Homo sapiens: one gene and its partner. The protein of the gene in region 1 purifies or fractionates together with the protein of each later gene. This does not show direct contact. Each region holds a gene or a part of one and is shown in the gene's direction. Other genes may lie near its edges.

Region 1 (4,149 bases):
TACAATATTTTGTGTCTGATTTCTTTCACTCAACATGTTTTAAAGTTCATCCATGTTGTAGCACATATCAGTACTTCATTCTTTTTATGGCTGAATAAAATTCCATTGTATGGATATACCTCTTTTGCTTATCCATTCATCTGTCAGTGGACACTTAGGTTGTTGCCCTCTTTTGGCTATTATGAAGAATGCTGCTATGAACACTGGTGTACAAGTATCTGTTCAAGTCCCTGCTTTTAATTCTTTGGGGTATATACCTAGGAGTGGCATTGCCCAGCACCTACTTTTCAACACAATTTTGTGGTCTACTGCTCGTAGTCAACACATACGTAGGAACCTGTCATAAAATGAGCAAATGTCTCAGGGCATTCCTTGAGGAGAATGCTCCCTCTCTAAGCCAGCTGCTGGTGCTAGTGATTACAACGAAGAGAAAGCTACAAAGTTTGGCAAAGTGATGGTGCTGCCTGGGAATGGACTTTTTATGGGGGAAATGACATGCTTTGGAGATTGCATCCATGAGTTGGAGACTGGCAAAAGTTTTAGTGTGTATCTCTCATGAATGGCCAAGGTCTAGCATACCTTTTTAAAGAGTAACATGTGACACCATTACTTGCCATTAACTACTTTGTATGGATTTGTTTATCAGACCTCTGGTCATGGTGACAGCCCACTGGGAATAGGGTCCTATGGGACTGGAATGTGGCAAAGCCAACTTTGGAGGAGAGAGGTAGAGAGATGGGGCTGGAGTCCATGGAAGGCCTAGCTTGGGCTGTTACAGCACGGGGCCTGGACAGCATGAGAGTTCAAAAGATCTGTTTGGAAAGTTCATGCTCTTAAAGAAAGGTGGGAAGCACAGAGCTTGAATTTCATCTACTCCTCAGTTTTTGCCAGGAGTGGACTATTATTTACTGAGTCCACACCTCAGCAAATAATGCTTTCCAGGGTGACCTTAGTTTTCTTCCCTGCCTGAAGAGAAGGTTAACACTCCTGCTTATATTTGCACTTGCAGATAATCCAACAAGCTCTCCATTCCAGGTAGAGGGTTGGCTCCTTTCCAGATCAGGTACTGAAGGCCAGGGAGTCTGGGTAAAATGGAGATGGATGTATCTGGCCAAGACTGCCAAGACCTCTAGGCATCCCGGGTGATGGAACCCTGCAGAGTTCTTGCCCCCACCTGGTGGGTGGGTTGGTTGGGAGGAATGAGTTTGGCCATGTCTGCACCTGGTGGTGGCTGTTGCGCTGTTTGCTCATCGTGATTCTGCTCCTACCTGAACTTTCTCTTCTTCTTATGTAAGCCATCCCTAGAGATAACTGTAAAGCCATAATCTGCCATGGCTGGCTGGGCTTATATAACAAATTGGTTGGTATCGTGCAATAGCCTCTTGAACCCTGGAGAAACCAATGTGCTAAGTTGAGACTAAAACATGGGTTCATTTGATGGGGTATTTTGTGTGCTCAGTGAACTCAGGGGAGAGGAGTCCATGACCACAGGGGTCAGAAAGATGAAATTTCCTTTTAAATAAAGAGAACAATAATGGCCCAGAACATACTGTGCTGTCCCAAAGTCTGCAATAATGGGACAAGGGTTAGGGCATTGCTGTAGCACCACAGCTTTGGCAGAAAAGGCCCTCCACAGAACCCCATGGGCTAGGAGGAGCCCCATGAAGGCCAGAAGGCTAGATCCCAGTTTCAGGGCAACCTAGGTTTGATGAAGAGTCAGGTCAGGGAAAATGTCTTTTGGAGGCCACTGTCTACCATGCTGAAATCCAGCTTAACTAGAGTTGGAGTGGGGCTAAGATGCGATCTGTGAGAGCAGAAAGCAAGCTTTTCTCGATTCTATTCCAGGCAGGAGGGAATTTCATCAGTAGGCAAGGCAAGTTCACTTGTACCTTCTAGCTGAAAATTCCTGCCCCAAAGTAGCTGTGGCCCTTCTGGAAACTGTATAAGAGGCATTAAGATCCCAGCCAGCACAGAAGACTGAATGGGAAGCTTCCCATTGTGCAGACACTAGCCCGAGGGAAAACAAGAGCTGGAAGCAGGCTGGATCACTGATGATCCAGGCTCACCATTGGCCTTCCTCTCCTGGGAGCCACTTTCCTCAAATAGGTCCAGCCAGAAATCGGGCCCCTGCCTATGGACAGAGCACACAGGGACCTTCCCCATCCTTCCTCGAAGGAAGACTTTACTCACAGAATAGGCTTGAGTATTCAACCCACTTCTTCTAATCTTCTCTTCAGGGGAGATGGAGAGCAGCTGTTCACAGCTTAGGGGTCTGGCCAGGATTCCCGCTCCGTGCTATCTAGGCTGGTGATTGGCTAGAGCTATCCCTAAGGAAGAAGGGGGTGAGAAGTGAGAGGAAAGGAAGCGACTCCAGCAGCTCCTTCCTGGCTTACCCCACTCCCAAGACACCCCTCCTTCAGCGCTGCCGTTTAGCCTCACTCCCAGACTAGGCTGGGCCTAGGCCAGCCTGAGGGCCCTGACTCATAACTAGCACATCTTATGTAACAGCCAGGTTACTGAGGCATCACACTTCTGCTTGCTCAGTGGTAGGCTTCCCTGGGGACAGGCATTTGGAAGCCTGCTGGGGGTCCAAGTCAAGCTCATCATACTTCCCAAGGAAAAGCCTACTCTCCCCAGTGTCAGGCAAGCAGTCTGCTCAGAGGCAAATGCCAGGCAGCAAAGCCTGACCCGGTCCCACACTCAGCCTCCACACTCAGCAGTAAATGTAAGCAGACAGGCAAGCTGGAGTGGACTTAATTTGGCTTGAGGCATTTTGGAGGTGGCAGGGAGGAACCTACTATCACCTGATAATGCACTGCTAAAGAAACTGCGTGGTGCATGGAGAGGCCCCAGAACAGGTCGCAGAAGTCCCTCTTCCTTTTGTATCTGCTTGTTGGTTCAGAAACTACTGGGTGGGTTGGGGTGGGGGGAGTTGTTGGGGGGGGGGCGGAAACTCCAGGCTGACTGACACCAGGTGAAAGGGTTTACCGGAAGGTGGAGGAGCTGTTTAAAGGAAGGCCTTTCAAGAGCCAATTCCCAGTCCACGCTCCATGAAGTCTCAAAGTCCCCAGGTTGACCTGAATTCACAGTGATTCTTAGCTCTCTGCCTGGCCTATTCAGAAAATTACATTACCGGCTTAGTGGAACTGAGCCCCCAGTGAAGTCAGTATTGCCAGATTCTATGACAGATTTCTCTAATAACAAATGTGACTATCTACAGCACAGAATACCCCCATCAATCTAATATTCCACTAGCTCAAGGTTTGTAACTAAACCAATAGCTCCTCTTCTTCTCTTCCTTTGTCTTTTCCCCAGCCTGTCTCACGTGTGTTGCCATCAAGTAAATGGCTCACAGGCTGTGAGTAGGTGGGGACACTGCTCTCCACTCCAAGAAATAGAGGAGAAACAGGGAAACAAAGTCAAAAAGGTGGTGTGGGAATTACCAGCAGGCATGATTTGTATCCAAAGCTGACTCATAAGTTCTTGGACAAGCTCAAGACTACCATCTCAGGGCTCAGAAGAGCTTGGCACCCTTAGTCCCCCAGATCACAGAATCCAGTGAAAATTAGGGGACCTGAGATGGAGATGCAGAATTTTCCTTTGTGGGACTCCTCCCAGGCTTCCAGCCCCTTTCTTCTCCCTATCCCCTCTGCCTTTTTGGTTCATAGGCTGTAGCAGTAAAAAAGAAAAAGAAACAAAGAAAACAAAACAAAGAAATAATAAATAATAAGAAAAAGAACTGCTCAGTTTTAAGGCAACATAATCTGCCTGCCCAGGTGCACAGAGAAATGAATGATGGCAGCACCTCATTCGGCCTTGTACCAAAGCGACCAAGCACTTCAATTAATCAATCCATCATTTATTGACCAAGGGCCTGCTATGTATTGAGTACCGACTGAGGATTTATTGAATGCCTATCCTGCTAATCACTGTAGAGGACACAGGAGACGTCAGAGTCTAGGACCAGGGCTCTGAGGAGCTGAGGGTATAGCAGGAAGGAGTGGAGCAGCTGCACCCAAGGCCAGTGGGGAACAAAGCACTGGCGTGACCTCAGGCCTTTGCAAACCTGGTCCAGCCTCCTGCTCCTTAAGGGAAAGGCCTTAAGCTTACTGCTCCTGGGGTCTGCAGGTCTGGAGCTTGGATGGTGCC
Region 2 (4,149 bases), on another chromosome or scaffold:
TCCTGCCTCAGCCTCCCGAGTAGCTGGGACTGTAGGCGCCCGCCACCATGCCCAGCTAATTTTTTTGTATTTTTAGTAGAGATGGTGTTTCACCGTGTCAGCCAGGATGGTCTCGATCTCCTGACCTTGTGATTCGCCCGCCTCGGCCTCCCAAAGTGCTGGGATTACAGGCGTGAGCCACCGCGCCCGGCCTTGTTTATTTATTCTTACCTAACCCAACACTCGAATACACTGCAATTAATTTTTTTTTTGTTTTTTTTTTTTTTCTGGAGACGGAGTCTTGCTCTGTCGCCCAGGCTGGAGTGCGGTGGTACGATCTCGGCTCACTGCAACCTCCACCTCCAGGGTTCAAGCGATTCTCCTGCTTCAGCCCCCCAAGTAGCTGGGACTACAGGCATGAGCCACCATGCCTGGATAATTTTTGTATTTTTAATGGAGACAGGGTTTCACCATGTTAGCCAGGCTGGTCTCGAACTCCTGACCTCAGGCAATCTGCTGAGCTCGGCTTCCCAAAGTGCTAGGATTACAGGTGTGAGCCACCATACCTAGCCTTGCAATCAATTTTACCCTAAAAGTCCTTTTGTTATGTCTTCTTTTCAGTATCTAAAACGTATATACTAGATCCCTTTGTCGTTTATAAGTGTGATGATTGGGTTTTCATGTTCCTGTGTGAGATATGCCTCCTTCAAGCCTTGTTATGATGTCTGCACATTACCTGCCTGTCATTTAAAAAAAAAAAAAAAAAAAAAAAATATATATATATATATATATATATATATATATATATATATATATATCATCAGGTACAGCTTTGTGGATTGTGAAGCATATTTAAGTGTTGGGAGGAATGAGGAATGAGTCTATTTGCTGGAGTAGAAGACAGAGGAGTTGAATAAAGTGGGCAAACACATGAGTCCAAGTTTGTTTTCTAGGGCAAGGAAGAGATTTGAAAACCTAGGGTGAATCATACTTCAGAATACTTATGGGAGGGCATGTATACTTGCACTATGATATTAGGGCTGTACATCTAATCAGAATCAGAAGAATGCCACTTTATGAGATCGGAGAATATGCTTCAGGTTATATGATTAGAAATTACGCTTAGACAAAGAGTAGGGTATGTTCTCATAGCAAATAGAAGACATTTAAAAATTCTTTTTCACAAACACACATGAGCCGTGAGGCCTAATTGCACAAAGTAGACACTAGAAATAAAAGGGAAGGTGAAGCAAAAAGGAGCTAAAACAATTAAGAGAGTGATAATAGAGCTTTCACCTTTTCTAATGAAATAGGTCTAATGAAATAGAAAACTCACGCTGATATCTGATATTTGTATTATGCCTCACGCTTTTACAAGGAGTATTCACAGAAATCTAATGTAGTGTTTGCCGCAATCCCTTGAAATAGGAGAGACAGCCCTTTCCTTGTTATGCCTCTATTAGAAATGAAATAATAAGCTGAATAGGTTAGCTGACATATCCAAAGCTCGCAGCCAGAAAATACCAAGGCTAGGAGAATGGAGAGTGGACTGCCCAGTTCTATAGCACGCTTCTTAGGAAGAAGCAGCTCTCCTAGCAGAAACAGCTTGGGCTAAATCTGTGCTATAATCTGTTCTTCATAAAAGGGAGTCAGAGGCTGTGCCTATTAGCAGAAACAGGAGGACTTGAGAAGGAAAGTGAGAAACTTTCTGATGGCTTTTTTTTTTTTCAAAGACCAGACTTACGGTCTAAACATTATCAATTTCATCTGTCAAAAAATTGTTTTCTGTCTTGTTTTATTATATCTTTTGAAGAAAGAAGAAAAAACATAAAAGTGAATTAGCCTATTTATGCCATCATTTCAGTCCATCAGCAGTATACCACCACAATAAACAAGCCATCTGCTGGCTAATACTGCTAGTAAGATCTACAGCACATGTGTTATGAAGAAGCAATGTAGAATGAAACATTACCAAAGGAACATAAATGATTCTTGATGTTATGTAAAGAAAATGGAAAGGGAGGGAAATCTGTACAGGACAGGTCTAGAAAATGGTGCTTGACCAGCAGCCCTCAGGACTGCTCTATCTGTGAAGCAGCTATTCTTTATTCCTTTACTTTCTTAATAAACTTGCTTTCACTGAAAGAGAGAAAGAGAGAAACAGAGAAAGAAAGAAAGAAAGAAAAAGAAAGAAAGAAAGAAAAGGAGGGAGGGAGGGAAGGAAGGAAGGAAGAAAGAAAAGAAAGAAAGAAAAAGAAAATGTTGCTTGGACAATTTTTGAAGCCTAAATAAATTATGTTACGGGCTGGGTGTGGTGGCTCATGCCTGCAATCCCAGCACTTTGGGGGGCCAAGGTGGGTGGATCACCTGAGGTCAGGAGTTAGAGACCAGCCTGGCCAACATGGTGAAACCCCTTCTCTACTAAAAATACACAAATTAGCCGGGAGGTGTGGCACGTGCCTGTAATCCCAGCTACTTGGGAGACTGAGGCGGGAGAATCACTTGAACCCAGGAAGCAGAGGTTGCAGTAAGCCAAGATTGTGCCATTGCATTCCAGCCTGGGCAAAAAGAGTGAAATTCCATCTCAAAAAAAAAAAAAAAAGTTACAAGAAAAACTAATGCAGAACACATAGAGAAATAGGAATAGAAATATTTCAGACTTACTCTTTTTTTTTTTTTTTTTTCCTGAGATGGAGTCTTGCTCTGTCGCCCAGGCTGGAGTGCAGTGGTGCAATAGACATACTCATTTTTAAAACGTTTTTATTACTTTTCCTTCATCAGTAGTGTTACAAAGAATGGAGTGTCCCTCCTACAAGAGCTCATCTCATGAAGATCCTTCCCAGTCACCAACTTAACCAACTCATAAAGTAGGATCTATGTCTAGAGTAATTATTTATTTATTTATTTATTTATTTATTTATTTATTTATTTATTTTTTGCCTAGTTGGTCAGTCCATTACTAAGAGTGTTTTAAAATCTCCACCTCTAGTGGTAGAATTGTCTTTTGGTTCTTTTAATTCAGTCAATTTTTGCTTTATGTATTTTGAACCTCTGTTATTAGGCACATATACTTTTTTTTTTTTTTCTGAGGTGGAGTTTTGCTCTTGTTGCCCAGGCTGGAGTGCAATGGCATGATCTCGGCTCGGCTCACTGCAACCTCTGCCTCCTGGGTTCAAGCAATTCTCCTGCCTCAGCCTCCTGAGTAACTGGGATTACAGGCACATGCCATCACTCCCAGCTAATTCTTGTATTTTTAGTAGAGACGGGGTTTTGCCACGTTGTTCAGGCTGGTCTCTAACTCCTGACCTCAGGTGATCCACCCACCTCAGCCTCCCAAAGTGCTGGGATTACAGGCATGAGCCACCGTGCCCAACCACACACACATCTTTATGATTATTATTATTTCCTAATGAACTGATCATTTTATCATTAGGAAATTTCCTTCTTTATCTCTGGTAAAAGTCTTTGTTTTAAGTCTATTTCTTCTGATAGATACAGCCAGTCCAATCTTCTAAAGCCTACTTTTCACATGGCATATTTTTCTTTCCATTTTCTTTCAACCTGTGTCTTATAGTTAAGGTGCTTATCTTATAGACATCATGTGGTTAGATTTTCCTCTTAAAATCCTATCTAATGATCTCTGTTTTTTTTACTTGTGATGTTTAGCCCCTTTATACTTAATGTAATGACACAGTTAGATTTAACTTTACTGTTTTGCTATTTGTTTTCTATATGTCCCTTCTCTTCTTTGTTTGCTTATTCTTCCTTTCCTGACTTCTCTAGGATTATTTGAATAGGTTTTAGAATTTAATATTAATTTACCTGTTGACTTTCTAGTTATCCTCTTTGCATCACATTTTCAGTGGTGCTCTGAAGATTACAATAAATGACTTTATTTTTATTTTTATTTTTTTGAGACAGAGTCTCACTCTGTTGCCCAGGCTGGGGTGCAGTGGCACAATCTTGGCTCTCTGTGACCTCCACCTTCTGGGTTCAAGTAATTCTCCTGTCTCAGCCTCCCAGGTAGTGGGATTACAGGCACGTGCCACCACGCCTGGCTAATTTTTGTATTTTTAGTAGAGACGGGGTTTCAGTATGTTGGCCAGGCTGGCCTCGATCTCTTGACCTCAAGTGATCTGCCCACCTCGGCCTCCCAAAGAGCTGGCATTA

The links.
Region 2: the proteins of TSC22D3 (region 1) and SGK1 purify together in Homo sapiens (affinity purification with western blotting; 2 studies listed by BioGRID). This does not show direct contact.

What each region holds. Positions count from the first base shown.
Region 1 is NC_000023.11:107,765,251-107,769,399, reverse strand, and holds part of TSC22D3 (TSC22 domain family protein 3), read left to right. Parts: intron 1-4,149. UniProt on the Homo sapiens protein: Protects T-cells from IL2 deprivation-induced apoptosis through the inhibition of FOXO3A transcriptional activity that leads to the down-regulation of the pro-apoptotic factor BCL2L11.
Region 2 is NC_000006.12:134,202,987-134,207,135, reverse strand, and holds part of SGK1 (serine/threonine-protein kinase Sgk1), read left to right. Parts: intron 1-621; exon of another isoform or gene 622-725; intron 726-4,149. UniProt on the Homo sapiens protein: Serine/threonine-protein kinase which is involved in the regulation of a wide variety of ion channels, membrane transporters, cellular enzymes, transcription factors, neuronal excitability, cell growth, proliferation, survival, migration and apoptosis.